Regions from separate parts of the Homo sapiens genome. Here regions 1, 2 and 3 are each linked to region 4. The links come from fine-mapping of genetic effects on gene expression. A gene starts in region 4. Each other region holds a variant in brackets. All regions are shown on one strand. Distances are from middle to middle.

Region 1 (5,150 bases), 21 kb after region 4:
GATAGGAACAGTAACAGCACAGTGCATTTTCTAAGAATTTTCACATATGTTCATATGCATATCACCTTTTTTAATCCTCACAATAACCCTGTGGTAAAGTATTATCCTCACATTGTATTAATAAATTAGGCAACCAAGATTCAGTGTGTTTGAGTGTCCAAGCAGAGCCACTGCTAATGGGAATTGAATGAAGCTGGAATGAGGAATCCAGGTGAGTTGGTGTGTACACGGACACACACACATGTACCCACATTTCAATCCAAAGGAAGCTAAAATTGAGTGTCAGAAGCAGTTAAACATAAATATGCTTCACTCACTCATTCATTCATTCATGGTTCTTCCATTCCTAATCTTGTATCTCCTACATTAAATTCCCTGCATAGTTAATACTCTGCATTTCCACAGTCTCCAGTTACTCTGGTCATTACCAGTATGTGGAAGTGCATATGCTTTTGCCTGTTTTGTTCAACCGTGTGTGTGTTTTTGAAGAAACACATCCAGAGACTCTAAGGCTTTGTTTTGGTAAATTAAAGCAACTTAAATTCCAGGTGTTGGCAGTGGCAGTTGTCTAACATAGCATGATAAAATTATCCCCCAGGTTCCTATATGCGTGGTTAATTACAGGTGATCCAACTCCCAAAGAATACACATGGCCTGGATCTCTGAGCTCTGCTGAATAAAATAACCAATGTATAATTTCATTTTCTGTGAAAAATGTTAACTAAACTAGAAAAGGTGATCAAATAAACTGTTGCTCTCACATGTTTTGTTTTGTTTTTTTGAGATGGAGTCTTGCTGTGTCACCTAGGCTGGAGTGTGCAATGGTGCAATCTCAGCTCACTGCCAACCTCTGCCTCCCGGGTTCAAGCAATTGTCCCACCTCAGCCTCCCAAGTAGCTAGGATTACAGGCGTGCACCACCACACCTGGCTATTTTTGTGTGTGTATGGGTATTTTTAGTAGAGACGGGGTTTCACCACATAGGCCAGGCTGGTCTCTAACTCCTGACTTCAAGTGATCTGCCCGCCTCAGCCTCCCAAAGTGCTAGGATTACAAGTGTGAGCCACCATGCCCTGCCTTCTCACATGTTTTCTAAAAATAAAACCTCTATCACTGAAGAGCATTAAGAACTTTGTGAGGAACAAATTAACTGTTCAGTCAGTTTGAATAAAATTGAGTGCTCTGGGGAGACTTTATTGTTGTTTGTGTGTGTGTTTCAACACTACAGAATAAGATGTGACTGTGACCCACTAAGTCCTTAAAAACAATAGGGTATATCATAAGAACTAGAAAGCCTAACTTCAGACACTGACAAGAAAGCAGGAAATACTACGTTTCTCATGGTAGCAAGACTCAGGAAATTCTTACGCAAACAAAGAGTGAAGGAACAGTTGACGGCAGTTTTCTGAATCAATCCCTCAACATATAAGGAGATGGTGGGATTTGGGGAAGAGGAAGAGAAGAATGATGACCAAGAAGGACAATAGCTGGTCTATTGGTAAAGAATGTGTTCAGCTGCAAGTAATAGAAAACTTGGCTCTAGTGGCTTGGCCAAAATGGGGTTTATTTGCTTGTAGAACAGGGAGTTTAGGTGTAGATGGTTTCTGGTGTGGCTTTAACCACTCAGCAGTGCTGTCAAGGACCAGGGTCCTTTCACTCTTTCTGCTCTATCATCCTTTGCATGTTGGCTTTTGTATACATGCTTAATAATTGCAAGAAGGCTTCTGCACCTCAGATCATCGTCATCATTAAAGACATTTAGAAGGAATAGAGAAAAGGACAATGCCAGCCACATGTCCCATTATATCAGGTGAGCAAATGTTTCCCAGAAGCCCATACTCAGCAAATTTCTGCCTAATCTCATTGGCCAGAAATGATCACTGGGACACCCTATTGTCAAAAGAGACAGAGAAGGGGGTGGTGGACACTGGGGCTGAGTCAGCCGGCTACATTGTCTGCCATAGCTGGGCAGCAGTTCTTTTTAGCTTTTCATTTCAGACACAGTTGCTGAAGGTGAATTCAAAGGGTGACTAGAAGCTTAGTGTTTTAGAGACCACAGACCCCATCAGACTTCACTGAAGTGTGAAATCAGATGATAAAATAGGTCATAGCTGGGGGGAAAAATGGAAAGCTTTGTAGCAAATATGTCTTTCCCAAAGTTCAGTGGAAAGAAGTCCTATCTGAAAGATGTCAAACCACATAGAGTCCATTTTGAAATGACATTTCACTCTTTCCTTCACAGAAATAATGGCTACCAGAATTGAGGGTTCCTGCCTGATTTAATTTAATATGTGGAAAGGGATAATTTTAAAATGAACTCAAAAACAGAAAAAGTTATAATTGTATATGGATAGATGCAGTAAAACTGCTTTAAAAAAGTCTACTTTCATTTTTATAAATTGTATAAACTTCAATTCATCCTCAGATCTAAGTAAGGTGAATTTCTAATTATTGTAGTGTTTTTAAGCTTATTTAAGTCATACATGTTATGGAGATTAATGTTTTGGAGAGGGTGGGGTTCAAATCCCCACTCCCCCACTTACTAAATGTGTGATTATTAAATGACAAGTTGCCTCTCTTTTTTTTTTTTTTTATTTTTTTGAGACAGAGTCTCACTCTGTTGCTCAGGCTGGAATGCAGTGGTGTGATCTCCACTCGCTGCCACCTCTGCCTCCCAGGTTTGAGCGATTCTCCTGCTTCAGCCTCCCAAGTAGCTAGGATTACAGGTGCCCAACACCACACCCAGCTAATTTTTGTATTTTTTTGGTAGAGATGGGGTTTCAGCACGTTGGCCAGGCTGGTCTCGAACTCCTGACCTCCAGATGATCCGCCTGCCTTGACCTCCCAAAATGCTGGGATTACAGACGTGAGCCACCGTGCCCAGCCAGCAAGTTGCTCCTCTTAACCTCAGTTTTGTCATCTTTAAAGTGGGGACAATATTGCTTACCCAAAGGGTTGGTGAGAGTATTAACTTCATATGAGGTTCTAAGCATAGTGCTTGCCACACAATAGGGTCTCAATCTGGCCGTTGCTTTTATCATTAGTAGTAGTGGCTAATGCTTCAGAAACAGCCCTCAAATGTCATACTATGGTACTTTTACCTTCATTCTTCCCTCTTTTTCTGGAGGGATAACTAGAGATGGGATGAAGGGTAGAAGCAGAAACTGAGAGTGGTAGGAATGATTGGATGGTATTATATGGAGAAAATGAGGGCTGTTCTTGCCCAAACTGGTCGGAAC[C/G]TCAATATTTTTATATACTTACAATTTATAGCCTACCTTATTTTAACATTATATTTGTGGCAGTTTACATCACCATGCTTTTCAGATACAGCAATAGTGCTGTAAAAAGCACTAAACTGCCTGGGCATGGTGGCTCACACCTCTAATCCCGATACTTTGGGAGGCTGAGGCAGGAAGATCACTTGAGACTAGGAGTTCAAGACCAGTCTGGGCAACATAGTGAGACCCTGTCTCCACAAAACAAAACAAAACAAAAGATTAGCCAGGTGTGGTAGTGCATATCTGTAGTCCCAGCTACTCAGGAGGCTGAGGTAGGAGGATCACTTGAACCTAGGAATTTGAGGCTGCAGTGAGCCGTGATTGTGCCACTGCACTCCAGCCTGGGTGACAAAGCAAAGCCCTGTATCAAAATAAACATAAAGTACTAAACTTAGAAGAAAAGAGTCTGAATCCTCCTGCCTCAGCCTCCCAAAATGTTGGGATTACAGGCATAAGCCACCACACCTGGCCAAGCATCTGAATCCTGACTATACATTGACTAACAGTGATCATTGGCACATTGCTTAATCTCTTTGTCCCTCTGTTGTCTCACCTGTGAAATGGAGCAAGCAGGACCTGTATTAAAGGATTAGGGTTAGGGTTATGGAAATAAACGAAGTCACAGATTTGAAAGCCTTTGTAACTGTTAGGCCTTTATGAATCCAAGATTGTATTCCCTCTGACTTTACCAACTATTGTAGTAACAACTCTCAAATATGCCCAGTCAGTTAACTGATATAACCTTGCGTATAGCTGTGTCAGTTATTTACTTTTTTCCTATATACCTCTGGTCCACTCCTCCCCTTCAAATCACTATCAGCAAGTAGTGCCCAGGGACTCCTGTGTTATAACATTAGCCAGAACCAAACAGTTAGTAAGGAATCTGCTACAACAAATTTATACAGAGCAAAATATAAAGTATTTTAAAATTGGCATCCTTTTGAGATAGTCTGTTCCTCTCCTGCCCTTCATTAGTTGGGTACTCAAGGGTTGGCAGTGTTTTCCCATCTAGAAGCTCATGCTGCATATTGACCTGCAAAGGTATTAGTCCAGGTACCAATGGCAACTTTTATGTTATCCATCAATCACTTTAATGAGTACAAGAAAGCATCCTATCACCCTGCCAAAAGACAGAGGAATTAAGAATGACTCATTTATCACTTAAATGTGTGAGTGTTTTCTATGTGTCAGGTGCCATCCTGGTGCTGTGGGGCACAGAACACAGACTCCAGTTTCCAGGGGGTTACCGTTAAATGGGGCTGAAGCAGCAACAGTGTGTCGGTCTCCTGTATTCAATCTCCTCATAATAACTGAGCCACTAGATCAGGAGCAGTGGCTCACGCCTGTGGTCCCAGCACTTTGGGAGGCCGAGACAGGTGGATCACCTGAGGTCAGGAGTTCGAGACCAGCTTGGCCAACATGGTGAAACCCAGTCTCTCCTAAAAATACAAAAATTAGCTGAGCGTGGTGGTATGTGCCTGTAATCCCAGCTGCTCAGAAGGCTGAGGCAGGAGAATCGCTTGAACTTGGGAGGCGGAGGTTGCAGTGAGCTGAGATCGCGCCACTACACTCCAGCCTGGGCAACAAGAGCGAAACTCGGAATCAAAAATAAAAATAAAAAATAAGATGGTAAAATTTGTATGTGTATTTTACTACAATTTTTTAAAATTAGAAAACAAAAACGTAAATCCTCTAGATACCAAAACCCAAGCCCCATGGAAAACATTTACCACAAAAAGGTGACAAGCTATCCCCACAAATGCCAAAATATAAGTGGGTTGGAACAAGCCACCTATGCCACCAAGCCTGCAGGCTGTCAGCAGCTAGGTGGAAAGACACAGAGGGCAGTAATGAGGTGATGACAGATCCAATA
Region 2 (5,150 bases), 30 kb after region 4:
GGACCTTCCTGCACTATTGCCAAGACCAGAATTCCTAACAAGCTTTTCAAAAGTAATCTAGGAGTATTTATTAAAATTAAACATTCTCATACCCTTTGACCCAGCAATCTTATTTCTGGAAACCTCTCCTACAGAAACAAAAGTGCTAACGCATAGGGACATAAGTATTAAGAATATTTATTGTATCATAGTTTGTATATAGAAGAATTTGGAACATCTGGAATATTCTTAAAGAATTATGCCCATGTTTGGGGACATTTTGCAGCTATTGGAAAGAATGAATTTGATTTATGTGTATTGAACTAATAAAGCTAATACATAATACATGGATTGTTCACTGAAAAAAAGGCAGTTTAAGCCAGGTGTGGTGGTGTACACCTGTAGACCCAGCTACTCAGGAAGCTTGAGGCCAGGAGTTCAAGATAAGCCTAGGCAACATAGACAAACCCTGTGTCTTAAAATAAAACTTTAAAAAAAATTTAAAGCAGCTTGCATGTTAATAGGTATGAAATTTTCATTAAAAAAATAAAAACTATATGTATAAACAGTTTATATAAGTTGTTGGGGGGTTAGGATTATCAGGAGGTAAAAGTAGACAACTTGCTGCTTCTTTATATATTTGTATATTTGAATTGTTACAGTGAGCATGCACTTTTGCATTTTTTAAATAGCAACAAAATATTTTAAAAGAATACTGAACCACTACATCATTGATATTCCTCATAACTAAATTTCGAAGGTTCTTTTCTTTCCTTCTTCTAATTACCAAAAACTTGATTCAAATTTAAAACTATACACTCATAGATCTAGAATGATTCTGGGGTGATATTTCAGTTCATCATTAACCTTTCCCTAACCACTTCCCTGTATCATCTTAGTCTAAGAGATTTCAAACATGGCAACTCCAAAGACGCAGGTCCCAGAAGAGCTCTCTGAGACCGCGATTTGGGACCCACACTGGTCAAAAGAGGAAAATCACAGAGCATCCTTTGTAAACTCAGCCTTCTCTCAGGAAAGTCTTTCTTATTATAACTGATATTCCTTGGGCTGAAACTCACACCTGTTCCTCCACTTCTGATGTAGAGACAAAGAGGATTCTTGACCCCAAAGGACCTCCTAGATCATTGCTTCAACCTTTCCATTTTACAGATGAAAAAACTGAGGACTAAGTAAAATGTGGGGAGAAATGGTACCAAAACCCACTTCCCCTACTTGCTAATCAGTGCATTTTCTGTTGCTCTAGTAGTACCTTTCTTTCTCACACACCAGCATCCCCGAGTCGGTTCTACAACAGTGCCTTTCACCTGGTAAGCCAAAGTCTGTTGGATGCAAACTGTTTACACAGAATCCCAAGTAGAAGCTAAGTTATCAACGTCAAAGGACCAGGAAGGCAGGGTGATTCAATTGCAAACCCAAAGCAGCAGCACTTTGGAGCCAGAATAGAACTCTGAATAGTCCTTTATTTTGTGCTGAGGACCTAGAACTTCCACTTTTCTTTCTCTGGAGCCAGACTTCATGCTGGGGCTTTGTTTTAAAATCAAGGCCCCAGCGGACTCAGAACTAAGGAATTTTTTTCACACATATTCAAAACGGAAGCCCTGCCACCATGGGGAAGCTCAAGGTCCTTGCTCAGCTTCTGCTTGTGTTTGGGCTACATGAAAATCTCTGGGTGGTGGTTGATGTTTCCCGCACCAAATGATTTCTGCACAAGGCCCGACATTCCCCCTGCCCTGATAGAAGGGTCACACCACACACCAAGAAGGATGTGACTAATAAAGAGTGTGACTTCAGAGAATTTACAAGTCCAGACAACTTCTGATAAACATTTAAACAGAGGTCAGGAATGTTTTCCTTTCTGAGGGGAAAATATGTGGTCTATGGTGTGAGTGGGAGGGGCTGGTGGGGGGTAAATCTAAGCATTAGCTTCCTCCCTTCATAATTCTTAAGCATTTTAACAGCTGTCATTTTTAATGCCCTAACAGGCTTTCAGACTTAGAACCCATAGCTGAGTATGGGCCAGAAAGCTCTGTGAAAAAAAAATGGGCAATTCCAAAGTGATTACCAAGCAAGTTTAAAACTAACATTAGGATCATTAGAGGCACTTTCCCTGGGCCCTGCCCTGAAGCTAAGAATGTTCCAGAAAGTATCACTCAAGGCCCATTTTAAGTACCCAGGTTGGGATCTTCACTTCCCCTGCTGACAAAAGGGGGAAGCTCCATAGAGGAAATGGGTGTTGACTTCCAGGAAAGGAAAGGTGAGAAGGACCAGATGGCATCTGTCAGCATCCTCAGCCCACCGGAGACATTCTGAGAACATTGGCCAGGGCCAAGGAGGAGAGA[T/C]TGATGAGCGGAAGCCAACAGAGATATCCCCTTGGCAGTGGAAAGGAAAGCTGCAGGTCGTTTTTGTGACCCAACACACTTTCATTGGTGGTGCTGATCCAGCTAATGTCTTTTAGCATTTTCCTTTTCATTGGCTGTTTGGTTTGTCTCCTGACATTTCCTGGATCGGTGTGCACGGTAGGCATAGGGTGAGTGAGTAAGACTAGTATTCTCTCTGGTCAGTTCTAAATAAAAAGTAAGAAAAGAAAATGTCAGCCAGGTGTGGTGGTGCACATCTGTAGTCCCAGCCACTTAGGAGGCTGGAGTGGGAGGATCACTTGAGCCTATGAGTTAGAGGCTGCAGTGAGCCATGATCATGCTACTGCACTCCACCCTGGGTGAAAAGTGAGATCCTGTCTCAAAAAATAAAATAAATTTCACTCAAAATCTTCCTCTAAATGGGAAGATGGGGACTCAGTATTGGAAGAAAGGTTCTGATACCAACTTTAGGAAAACCCTTCGTGTGTCTGCAATCAATATTCTTTTGAATATATCAGCTTCCGTTGTTTCAGCTATAACCCCTGTAGGCTGGAGCACTCGGGCAATGTGAGTAGAATGCAGCAGTGTCAATTTCCCTCCTTTGAATCTTAGACAGGTAGAGAAATTATCTCATTTTAAAGTCCTAAGTATTCCCATACTCAGTTTTAGACATTTCTTGCTTTTCTTACTGAGATAAAGTATGTTATTTTGAAAATCCAGTCTTCAGAAATCTCATTCACTTTGTCATTGGTTCATTCATTCTTGTAGTCATTCATTCATTCAGGTACCCACCAAGCCCTGTGGGAGACCCTGTGTTGGGCTAAAGGGCCATGTCAATAGGCCATCACTCAGAAAACCGTGGGAATCGTGGTCAGGATGGAAGTTCTAGAGTCAAACCTACCCTGAATCCTGGCTCTGCTTCCCATGTGCTCTGTGATTCTGGGCAAGTTATTTAACCTCTCAAAGCCTCCAATTCCTCATCTCTACAATGGGGTAATAAGCATAGCCACTTAACTAGATTTCTGTGAGGATTACCTGAGATAATATATGGATGAGCCTGCACTGTGCCTGGCATACAGTAAACTCAGTAAATGATAATAGAGGCAATGGTAAGGACAGTAGTAACTTTTATTATTAACAATTATTAATGAGACAAATAGCATGAGAGTGATAGGAAAAGCGCTGTTAGATGTTGGACAGAAGATAACTGGGAAGATTTCATATAGAATTTGACTTACTAGATTTTTTTCACTTGAGGTTTAAAAAAAATCTTAGTGGAGAAATTGGGAAATTCCCTTTCCTTTGCATTTCATTTTCTATTACTTTCCTGAAGACTGAAACTTCAGTGTAGAATTTAGCTGAAGGCTACATCCCAGCATTTGCATTGGCCTTGGAGTGCCAGGGTAATTATTCTGTCAATTATTTGACTTTTTAAAGTCTGTCTACCTTGAAGAACCTCTGCAAAGGAGGACCGTGTTAATGTGTAACACAGAGATAAGCAAGGCTCTGCTCTTTTTTTTTTCCCATGGCTGTTCAACTGGAAAACTGAAATGGTTCTATTTGCGTCTCAGCCAGCAGTGTTGAAAGGTGGGGGATAAATGGCTTTTACTAATGAAGTACAGTGGGATGTGAATTTTAGCAATGCAAAATGCCACGTATCACCTGCAATTTGTTTTTTTAAAACACACACACACACACCAAAAAAGGGAAATCACAAGACAACATAAACCTCGCTTGAAGAAACGATCGTGTTTAACAAGAAGACAGCAAAGAGAAATACTCTGAGTTGAGCCAAGTAGATGTGTGCTGCTTTTGTAGATGGAATAAATGATCCTCACTTGCATAGACAGCAAGGTCATTTTTCTCACCCTAAATGGAAGGCATTAATCATCAGCTCTGAAGAACAACATTCAGGACAAGAAGAAACAAGCCACCGCAGCAGGAGGTATTGAATTGAGCCAGAGAACTGGGGGCCCTGTGGACGGGAGCCAGCTCAGCCCAGGTAGCAGCTCCCAGATCAGCAGGGGTGGGTGGTGGAGCTGGTCCTCTTGAGCCCTAACAGCTTTGTTGGGAACTTTCTATTGTTCAAGAAATCTCCTAGTTACCATCCATGTGCATTTCTGAAATGCCTGACTGTGCTCCGGGCTCTGTAGGCTCTGGATTAGCTGGTTCTCTGTGGACCCCGTCTGCATAAAAAGCAAAGATCAAAGGAACATGGTAGAGCTCTTTAAAAAAAAAAAATCCTAAACTCACAAGTGAATGGGAAATGCATATTTATATCACTGGCCCATCAAGGGTAAGGGTGTTCTGTGAGAGGGGAGGAAGAGAAATCATTAAGCAGGAGCGAAGCTCTTCAGATTAAGAGCTGGAAGAACTGCATTGAAGACTAAGAGGAGACTGAAGGCAAACAGTGGATCTTTTACCATTTTTCTTTTTTTTTTTTAGACAAGTTTGAAATCGAGTTTTACCGCTTTCCCATCAGCTACACCAAGTAGTTTACTTGTGCAGTGGCTAATTAATTTGTTGAGGCAGAATTTTAGGTTACCTATGAGGTAATATGGAATAGTGGTTAGGAGGTGTCTAGCTTTTTAATCCCAGCTCTATCATTTATGAGCCTTGTAGCACTGGGCAAGTTACTCGACCTTTCTGTGTCTCAGTTTCCTCCTCTGTAAAATAGGAGACAGTACGAACCTCACAGGGCTGTCGTGAGGGTTAAATTATTTACACATATGAATGCCCATAGTGAGCAGTCAGTGAACAGGTATTGCTGTTGATTTTGTTACCGTGGCCACA
Region 3 (5,150 bases), 57 kb before region 4:
AACAAGGTGATGTGTGGCAAATCCTTGGTTTGATTCACCCGACCATGCTCCATCAGTTTGACCTCTGGGGAAGCTGCAGCCTCAGCAGCTAAGGTCAGCCACATAAGTGTTCTTTTCCTATGTCACTTACCCCTCATAGAAACCCTGAACACCAAGACTCAAATTGGCAATACTTTATGCATGTTGCCACACATCAGTGCTGGGGGGATTAAGTGGTATCCATGTGACCCCACTGGGTGACAACATCTGGAAGCTTCTGTCTAATTTCTCCTTGACTCTACTCTGTATATCTTTTTTCTTTGTTGATTTTAATCTGTATCTTTTGCTCTATAAACCATAACTGGGAGTATAACAGCTTTTCTGCGTTCTCTGACTCCTTCTAGTGAATCATCAAACCTGAGGGTGGACTTGGGGACCCTACACACACTTCCCAATGGCAGCCTTTGGGAAGGGGTGGCTGTGAATGGCAGCCTTGTTGGAGGACTTAGAACTCAGAGAGAGTTAGAGCCCAGAATGGAGGTTAACTGCAAACCTCCTTCTCTGTGGCTATACAGAACTCCTGTATTACAGACCCAGTGGCCTCTCACTGGTACCAAGGGAGAGCCAAATCTGCCTGCCAGGGATGGGGTTGTCATTTGAAACAAATAGGACGGATCTAAGTAAACTTATTGGCAGGATCTATAGTTCTAATTGTGAAAGTAATACATATTTGTTGTCAGAAATCTGAACAACAAAACAAAATAAAAAATAAAACAGTCCATTGGAATCCCACCACTCAAAGGTAGGCATGGCTAATATTGTGGTGTAGTTCTTAATAGTCAATTTCTTTTTCATGAATATGTAGCAGTATCCCCAATGAGACAGAATTTTAAACTTTTAGCAAGAAAATCTGCAAGTTAAAAGTTGCCAGCCACTTCCATGTCTAACAAGTCATCCTGGGACACATTTTTTTGTTCTGGAAACAATCACCCAGGCAGTTTCTTTTAGCTTTGCAAATTTAAGGCAGAGGCGCTCATCGACCAAAGGCAGGAATGTTAGTCACAGGCAATGTTTTTTCTCAGCTCCCCATTTGTTCCCCAGGATACCAAGGCCAAATGTCACTGGGAAGTACTAAATAGTTGAGCCCATTTGAGAGGGGGGCTAGAAGCCTCCTAGGAGAAAACAAATCAAGACTCCCAACTACTTCTCCTTAGGTTCACTCGTTTCCAAACATCTCTGATAAGCTCAGTGGGTCCTCTGCAGGAGCCTGGATTACTAAATTGTTGGTGTTAGTGGGGAGGTGTTGTAGGTATAGCACATTGCCAAGGCTGGAACCTTCTACCGCAGCAGCCACTGCAGCCCCATGGGCATGGTTTGAGAATCGTATATATGAGGACAAACTAAGAGGCTGAAACATTGAGAACCCAGAGCCGTGCTGGCATAAGACAGTGAGAAGAGGTCTCTTCCCAGCTCCGTAGGAACTATCCCCTGACCAGCTGTGACAGCACAGACAGTGATAGCTCAAGGCTGTGTGGACAGCTGCTTTTAGCAGGCACTGGTGTTAGGGAACAGCAAATGCAGCCCACGGTGGACCCATCATATTTTCCAGTGCTGTCTCTACAAGGGATTTGGGAGTATCACTGATCCTTTAGCCTGAATAAACTGGGACTGTGGAACCTTAAATGTATCACAGAAAGGAAAACACTGGGAAAGAGAAACGAGCATGTTAATGCTGATAAATCTATGCATGCTACCATCCTGCAGACTGGTGAAAGCTGTTGGCTACCCAGCCTTGGGCCATTCCTGTCTGCGCTGTCACAGCTGGTCAGGGGATGGTTCTCATGGTGCTGGGAAGAGGAGATCAATGACTCAGTTCAGTGGAGACATGTGACCATTTCATTTTTTTTTTTTTTTTTTTTGAGACGGCGTCTCACTCTGTCACCAGGCTGGAGTGCAGTGGCGCAATCTCGGCTCACTGCAAGCTCCGCCTGCCAGGTTCAAGTGATTTTTCTGCCTCAGCCTCCCGAGTAGCTGGGACTACAGGTGCATGCCACCATTCCCAGCTAATTTTTTGTATCTTTAGTAGAGACAGCGTTTCACCATGTTGGCAAGAATGGCCTCCATCTCTTGACCTCATGATCCACCTGCCTCGCTCTCCCAAAGTGCTGGGGTTACAGGCGTGAGCTGCCGCGCCTGGCCACATGTGATCATTTCTTACACCCCAAGTTGAAGCAAAAGACATAAGCAACACAAAAATACAAATACACACAATTTGCAACAAAATGGTATTAAACTGCATAATGCTATATGTTTTTCCCCACTTAATATTATCTATCAAGCATTTTCTAATGACATTAAACATATTTGTAAACATAATACTACTAGGTAATGACAATAGCTAAAACTGATGTAGCGGTTATTTAGTATCTACTATGTGAGGCAGTATTATTAACCCCATATGCTAGATAAGAAAACTGAGGCACAAAAAGTTTACGTAACTTGTCCAATGACCTACGGCTAGTAAAAGAAGCTAGCATTTGAACCCAAGTAACCTTCAGTGCTAATGTTCTCATTTTTTTTTAACACATCGCATATTTAATCATTTTCCTACAGTTGCATATTTCTTCTTTCCCATGTTTTCACTGCTATAAATATGCAGTGATAAGCATCCTTATACACAAAGCTTTGCAAGTCAATTAAAACTTTTAACATAAATGTAGAACTTTACATTTGTTTAATTCCATCACTTTTAATTTAGACCTGCAAGATTGTCTTAAATCTTGATTCTGCAATTCAAATGTTCCACTTGTCCTCTCAGCTTTGCATCATTCAGATTTAACTGACCTATTCTTCTAAACAAATACTTTATCTAAAGCTTGACCTGGACAGGAAAAGATCCAATGGCTTGGCTCCTGTCTCTCTCACTAGCTCATCTCAGTCTTCTTTTGATGCCCTATCACACAGTCTTCCAGTTCCTCAACCATACCATGTTCTTTCAGGCCACGGGGCCTTTGCACATTCTGCTCCTTCTCCTGCAACCCCCT[G/C]CTCTCACCTGGTAAATTCCCAGTAGTGCTCTGCATCTTAGCCAAAGCTGAGGCCAGGGGGAGTTCTTTGTTATACACTTTCACCGAACTATATTCTTTTCCTTCCAAATGGGAAATTTATGCACTAGGTCATGAAATCATCTGATTAATAGCTGTCTCTCTCCCTCAACAACAGACTCTATGATAGCAGGGGCCATGCCTACTTCCTGCCCATGTTATCCTTAGCACCAAAGCTGTACAGTTGGCCCTCTGTATCTACCGGTTTTGCATGCATGGATTCAACCAGCTGCTGATAAAGACCCAGTGACACCGAAGGCCAGCTGTACGTACATATTTTCCATTCTTGGTTGGTGAATCTACCAAATGGCCAACTGTTCTATGCCATTTTATGTAAGGGACTTGAGCATTTGTGGATTTGGTACCCTCGGTATGGTGGAACCAATCCCTGAGGCTGAAGAGGACAGACTAAACTGGGCCCTTGGAGACATTTAATGAATGTTTGCTGGATGAATTAATGAATGAATGCAGCACCCTGTGGCTCAGTAGTAGAACCATGACCCTCCGTGCTAATGGTGAGCATGCACGGATTCATCAGCCCTCCTTGAGGACAATGCTTCAATCAGTTAAAATGTACAGCCTGCCTGTTCTTCTCTAAGCCCCAGGATATTGCTAGAAAGTTTATCAGCTGCAGCTGAGTTCAGGCGATGTGACTGACCTCCTCTGCTCTCTCCTCTTTCCAGGCATCCTCTATTCAGTCTGCGGTTGTCCTTCCAAAGGCAGCTAATATAAGACTCCCTGATTAAAAGCTTCTGTGGCTTCACAGTGTCCTCAGGATCAAGTCCAAGCTCCTAATCTTGACATTCAAGGTCCTTCACATTCTGGCCCTTGCCTCCTTTTTCCCTGTCATCTGCTGCCACTGACACCCCCAACCCCAACCCCAACCCCATATGCATACAACAAAGATACTCCACAGTACTAAAAGTCTTCCTATACACCATGCACTTGTATTCTTTTGACACTTTGCTCTCTTTCCCTAGAATGCAAATCTCTCTTCTCTGTCTGACAAACTCCTACTCATCCTTCAAGGTCCAGCTCAAAAGTCACCTCCCCTTTTGAAGTTCTCCCTGGCTCCTTCCCACCCTCATCAAAGGCGGAGTTAATTTTCCCTTCTCCTGTATGTATTCATGTGGCATTTTGAACTTAATTCTATGTTAGTGCCCGTGCTATGTTCAAGTGCCTGTGTTCCCTGAGGATCTCCTTGAAGGTAGGCATCTTATCTTACTCAGTTTTATTTCTCACCTCAGCCCTTTCCTTAAATGCTTATAAAATAAGCATTCCATAAATACTTGACAGGGTTTGTCTTTTGGTATTATCCCACTCCACAAGTCTAGTGACACTTGCAAATGCATTTGACTTTTGGAGTCATGGCTGACCAACCTGCTAAGATCCAGCAATAGGTGGGATGTGGGGATTTTCAGGAAGGGGAGTGGTAAGTTCATGGGAATGTGGAATTTAACCTCTCTGCTTCCCCGACCACCACAACAGCCACTAACCTCCCAACTCTGCCAGCCCAGTGGAGCTGCCTGCTAAACCTTGCTGATTCTGTCAGCAGCCCGTCTTCCCTTTCCTTCCTTTTCATGTCCTCTGCTTCTTCATGAATTAGCTACAGTTCTGCACTGGCTCAAGATGAAGGGGCTATGGACAGAATATAGAAAAACCTTCATAGGCCAAGCACAGTGGTTCACACCTGCAATCCCAGTGCTTTGGGAGGCCGAGGTGGAAGGATCACTTGAAGTCAGGAGTTCGAGACCAGCCTGGACAACATAGCAAGGCTGTCTCTAAAAAAAAAAAATAATAATAATAATTTAAAAAGTTTAAAAAGAAAAACCTTCCAAAATTAAGAGACTGTTGAGTTTCTTGAGGAACGAAACAGAGCTTTCTGGGGCACTCTGGCCCTCTCCACTACCTCTGTCTGCTCTGTCCTCCTCCTACCTCAGCCTGCTCCCTCAGGCAACTCATCTTTTACACACCCCTTTGTCTACAGATTCTTCGCTACAGAGAAGCTACAGAGCTCTCCATATTTTCACCAGACCATTCTTTTCAACATTCCAGTCCCAAAATCTCAAA
Region 4 (5,150 bases):
CATTATACTGGAGGTTCTAACCAGGGCAATTAAGCAAGAAAAAGAAACAAAAGGCACCAATTAAACAGGAAGAAGTAAAAATATCTCCATCTCCACATCCAGCCTCTCCACCTCACTAAAACTGAAGCTGAACAGGTGACAATATATCTGTTATTGGAAGGGTGGAGTTGTCAACTTGCTCTTTAAAGGCTCCATTCACCTGCCTTTTTTCTAACATCTCTTCTTGTTTTCAGGTCCTCCAGCTCGACTGGCACTATCACAGAGCTCGGGTTCCCCTTTCAGTGACCAGAAACTTGCTTGTTTTCTTTGCTTGCTGGGCAGTGAGGAGGTTCCTCAAAGGGACTCCGCTGTAGCACATGCTTGCATTCTCACTGTTGGCTCTGATGCAGGACCTCCACACACTGTGGGTGACAGCTCTTAGTGTACAGCTGCTGCCACTGCCCACCCACATGCCCTACACACGCAAACACACACACACACACACACACACACACACACACACACACAGTTTGTAGAGCCTGAGGGCTTCTTCTGGCTGCGGAGATAAGCACCTTTATTGGCTGTCTTCCCTTCCTGCTTGCTCACCTGCCTGCCCCAACCCTCAATCTCTGTGTCCTGATGTGGCTTCTCAGGTGACCTACTTGCACTGGAATCCTTGTCTCAGAGAAAGCTTCTGGAGAATCTAAAACTATGACAGATCGTCATACTAGATCATGGAACCAATTTAGTGGCTCTTGACCAGTGAATTAATAAAAAGGAAATCAGGGCCGGGCATAGTGGCTCACACCTGTAATCCCAACACTTTCGGAGGCCGAGGCAGGTGGATCACTTGAGGTCAGGAGTTTGAGACCAGCCTGGGCAACATGGTGAAACCCTGTCTCTAGTAAAAATACAAAAATTAGCCGGGCATGTTGGTGCATGCCTGTAATACCAGCTACTCGGGAGGCTGAGGCAGAAGGATTGTTTGAAGCTGGGAGGCAGAGGTTGCAGTGAGCCAAAATCTCACCACTGCACTCCAGACTAGGCGACACAGGGAGACTTCATCTCAAAAAAATAAAAAAAAGAAAAAGAAAGAAAAGAAAAGAAAGAAAGAAAGAAATTAAATACAATAGGAAATAGAGTGCACTCTGCATTTGTTTCCTTTTCAAGAAAACAAATGGGTCATGTAAACTGCATCTCTTAGGATGGAACAAAGACAAAAATATTTAGGGAAACTCTGCTGTAAAGATTTTTCATTGTTTTTTAAACAACTGTCAGGTCAACATATGACCTTTGAGGGGAAAAAAAATGCTCCACTTGTCTATAATACACTAAGGAGAGGCCAAAAAGCAGTGCTAGGTTTTTCTGGATTGGAGGATGTTTCCCCACTCTCCACCCCCCGATTTTGTGGTCATTTAATTTTCAAAAAATTTGCAATAATTATCCTTGTAAGAGTCTGTTGAGAATGAGTTCTTTACACTGCTAATGGGATTATGAACTGAACTGCTGGCTTTCAGTCAGCAACCCTGTAAATCCCTGGATTTATGCTAAGAAAAAAGAACACAAAAGAACCACAATGTGACATGCAGAATAATGCACGCTGCAATGTTACACATTCAGTTAAAAAGTGAAAGCAACTTCCATGTCTGCATTGGAGAGGCCAGTGTTCCTGGGAAGAGAGGCTTTCAAGTTGAGTTTGCAGAGCACTTCGCAGAAAGACTGAGGAAGAGTCCACCGTTTATATCAAAAACCTCCTGGAATGCTGGTGAAGACTGGGGGCGCTTTAGGTGCCTCCGTGGCAGCTCCAACGAGGAAGGAGCTGGGACCCCTGCTCCTCTCAGCTGCGCTCTGTTCTCCCGAGAGGCTTGCTGGAGGGCGAGCAGTTCAGCAAGAACTCAAAACAAGGGCACAGCTCTCACACGGATTCCAGTACTCACTGAAAACGGCTCAGCACAAAAAAAGCACAGAGTCTTGTTGAATGCCACTGGGAGACAAAGCGGGGAGGGAGGTGCAGGCAGTTAAGAGGTTCCAGAAAGGGAAGTGGTTGGCAACGGTTTGTCCTTTTAGTGCTTGACACCCAAGACCACAGCAGGCCTGTGGCCAGCGGGGACACAGTCCACAAGTGGGGGTTTTTAACAGCTTGTTCTTAAGAGAGCTTCCCAAACCACAGAGTAATGAGCACTCAGGTGTCTCAGGCCCACGGAGGATTTAATAGATGAAACCCTGGATCGTCTCGAAGCCGTGGTTGTTAAGAAGTTTAAATATATTGACCGGAAACGGGGAGAAACCAGAGGGTGGAAGAGCCGCTCGCACTGCGGTGCGATCCCTGAGGGCTCGGGGCAGGGGACTGGGGACCGAGCAGGAGCTGGCGGGGTGAGCTCTGCGAAGCGGGCGTGAGACCGAGCGCCCATGGGCCGGTCACGCCGGGTGCCCGCTCACCCCCCGACGCCAGCAGGAGCGCGCGCGCAGGCCCCGCGGGGCCGGGAGGGCGGCACGGGCGGGGCCCCCGTGCTCTCACCGCCCCGGGGTGTGGTTCCCGCGGACAGGCCGGGCGGGGCGGCGGGTTTAAGGCGCCGGCCGGCCCGACACGGCTCACTCGCGCCCTTGCCGCTGCCACCGCACCCCGCCATGGAGCGGCCGTCGCTGCGCGCCCTGCTCCTCGGCGCCGCTGGGCTGCTGCTCCTGCTCCTGCCCCTCTCCTCTTCCTCCTCTTCGGACACCTGCGGCCCCTGCGAGCCGGCCTCCTGCCCGCCCCTGCCCCCGCTGGGCTGCCTGCTGGGCGAGACCCGCGACGCGTGCGGCTGCTGCCCTATGTGCGCCCGCGGCGAGGGCGAGCCGTGCGGGGGTGGCGGCGCCGGCAGGGGGTACTGCGCGCCGGGCATGGAGTGCGTGAAGAGCCGCAAGAGGCGGAAGGGTAAAGCCGGGGCAGCAGCCGGCGGTCCGGGTGTAAGCGGCGTGTGCGTGTGCAAGAGCCGCTACCCGGTGTGCGGCAGCGACGGCACCACCTACCCGAGCGGCTGCCAGCTGCGCGCCGCCAGCCAGAGGGCCGAGAGCCGCGGGGAGAAGGCCATCACCCAGGTCAGCAAGGGCACCTGCGAGCAAGGTGGGCACGAGCGCTTCCCTCTCCAACCCTGCGCCGCTCGGCCCAGCGAAGGGCACATCCGACGGGGCGTCCGCGGCGGCCTCGCCCCGCGCTGCTCACTGCGATTCCCCCGCGGGCATCCCAGGAGCCAGATGGGAGGGAAAGAGTTGGCAGCCGCGGAATGCCAGGAGCGGTGGGCGACGCCCCCCCTTCTCCTTTTTGGTGGTTTTATTTTGAGAGTTTGCTGCGTGCGTCCAGAAAGTGAGGGCCGGGTGTATATGTAGAAAAGATTTTCCGAGACCTCAGACTTCCCCATGCCCAAAGCGCACCCAACTCGTGCTAACATCTGTCCATTTCTCATCATTCTTGGCTTGGGGATGTAGAGAGAGGTGAAGTCAAGAGATGGGGGAAAGGAGTTTGACAATTAAATATAAAGTAAGGACTTCCAGACAGACTTTTTTTTTTAAAAGATAGGATCTTGCTCTGTCGCCCAGGGTGGAGGGCAGTGGCACGATCTTGGCCCACTGCAACCTCTGCCTCAAGCGATCCTCCTGCCTCAGCCTCCCAAGTAGCTGGGACTATAAGCCTGTGCCACCACGCCTGGCCAATTTTTGGTTTTTTGTTTTGTTTTGTTTTGTTTTATAGCGACGGAGTTTCACTATGTTGCCTAGGCTGGTCTCGAACTCCTGAGCTCAAGTAATCCCGGCCTGCTGGGATTACAGGCATAAACCACCGTGCACAGCCCTGATTTCTTAGTATTGAAGAAAATAGTCCACTTTCTAAAAATTATAGGTTCTCAAACAGTAATCTAACTAGCTAATTATTTGTGGGCAAAAATAAAATACAAACTCTTTGAAGACTGTTTTTGTGATGCACTTTGTTGTCAACCTTCTGACCATTTTGTTTTTCCTTCCTATTTCTTTGATTTGTATTGTTTTGCATAATTTGTCCCCAGGATACACTGTTCAGCAGAAATGTCTTTGAGATTATGTTTGATTGTTTATTTTATTCCAAACAAGTCCAAGCTTGCTGTAAATGAAATAAGGAAATAGGCCGGGTGGGTTGGCTCACGTCTGTAATCCCAGCACTTTGGGAGGCCAAGATGGGCAGATCACGAGGTCAGGAGTTCGAGATCAGCCTGACCAACACGGTGAAACCCCATCTCTAATAAAAAATATATATATATACATTAGCTGGGCATGGTGGTGCATGCCTGTAATCACAGCTACTCAGGAGGCTGAGGCAGGAGAATCGCTTGAATCTGGGAGGCGGAGGTTGCAGTGAGCCGAGATCACATGACAGCACTCCAGCCTGGGTGACAGACAGAGACCCCATCTCAAAAAAAAAAGAAAGAAAGAAGAAAATAAAGTCTGGACTTGCAAATACACGCACATACACACACACATAGAAATTTTAACTCTAATGCCTGAAATAACATTTTCCATTGGCAGTATTTTCAAGGGAAAGTCAGACATTCAATGTTGGCAGCTCCTGATCTTAGCCAAGGTAGAAAAGGGAGAGGAGGCAGTTCTGAGGTTACAGAAGCTGTTGCTTCTTTAACACAGTTCAGACTTTCTCCAGAATTTCCAAATTCTTTCTTTAGAGCTTTTCCCAGAAGTCCACAAACTAATAGGTTGTATGTCATCAATTTCAGAGTTCACTATTGAAAGCCTTAAATTGTGTAACTCACTAGTAACTATTTATAGTATCATCACCTTAAACTTAGAAAATTGCAACCCAAAATAATCTGCATATGTTTACAATAGAAACAGTTATTTGTTACTTTGGATCTCATTTGTCGGTCACATCATGAAAAGATAAATGTGCGTTATTTAAGAATTTATTCCAAATATTGAGATTTTCTTATAAACATTACAATGGGGAACTTTATAGTTTTTTCAAAATGGCAGATACTTGCCTTATCAGAGCAGAAGGTTAGCTTGGTGATTGTTCAAGTGTTGTCAATTTCTAGTTTATACTTAATATTCCTTTTTCTCACCTGCTACTTACATCACCAAACACTCACACAGTCTGATTATAAAATATTGAGACTGACAGTCATATAGAACCAGTTTCATAACCTCATTAC

What was found. PIP is the estimated chance that this variant, and not a neighbour inherited with it, causes the effect. A credible set is the group of variants that fine-mapping cannot tell apart.
Region 1: its variant is the best candidate, but not a certain one, in a credible set for the expression of IGFBP7 in subcutaneous fat (TwinsUK, PIP 0.53).
Region 2: its variant is the best candidate, but not a certain one, in a credible set for the expression of IGFBP7 in monocytes (TOPMed, PIP 0.64).
Region 3: its variant is the best candidate, but not a certain one, in a credible set for the expression of IGFBP7 in whole blood (TOPMed, PIP 0.57).

Annotation. Positions count from the first base shown.
Region 1 is chr4:57,086,482-57,091,631 of GRCh38, reverse strand. All of the region lies in intron 1 of IGFBP7 (insulin like growth factor binding protein 7), which reads left to right. Among named protein-coding and RNA genes, the nearest start is that of IGFBP7-AS1, 21 kb to the left of the region's middle. The variant C/G (reference allele first, on the strand shown) is at 3,239.
Region 2 is chr4:57,078,135-57,083,284 of GRCh38, reverse strand. The region is part of intron 1 of IGFBP7 (insulin like growth factor binding protein 7); the gene reads left to right. Among named protein-coding and RNA genes, the nearest start is that of IGFBP7-AS1, 29 kb to the left of the region's middle. The variant T/C (reference allele first, on the strand shown) is at 2,340.
Region 3 is chr4:57,165,068-57,170,217 of GRCh38, reverse strand. The region is part of intron 1 of IGFBP7-AS1 (IGFBP7 antisense RNA 1); the gene reads right to left. Among named protein-coding and RNA genes, the nearest start is that of IGFBP7, 57 kb to the right of the region's middle. The variant G/C (reference allele first, on the strand shown) is at 3,024.
Region 4 is chr4:57,107,809-57,112,958 of GRCh38, reverse strand. It overlaps IGFBP7 (insulin like growth factor binding protein 7), which reads left to right and starts at 2,574. Exons shown (of 5, transcript NM_001553.3): 1 at 2,574-3,082. The coding sequence starts at 2,608. IGFBP7-AS1 (IGFBP7 antisense RNA 1) reads right to left here and starts at 3,197. Exons shown (of 5, transcript NR_034081.1): 1 at 2,989-3,197. RefSeq lists a silencer at 2,436-2,505.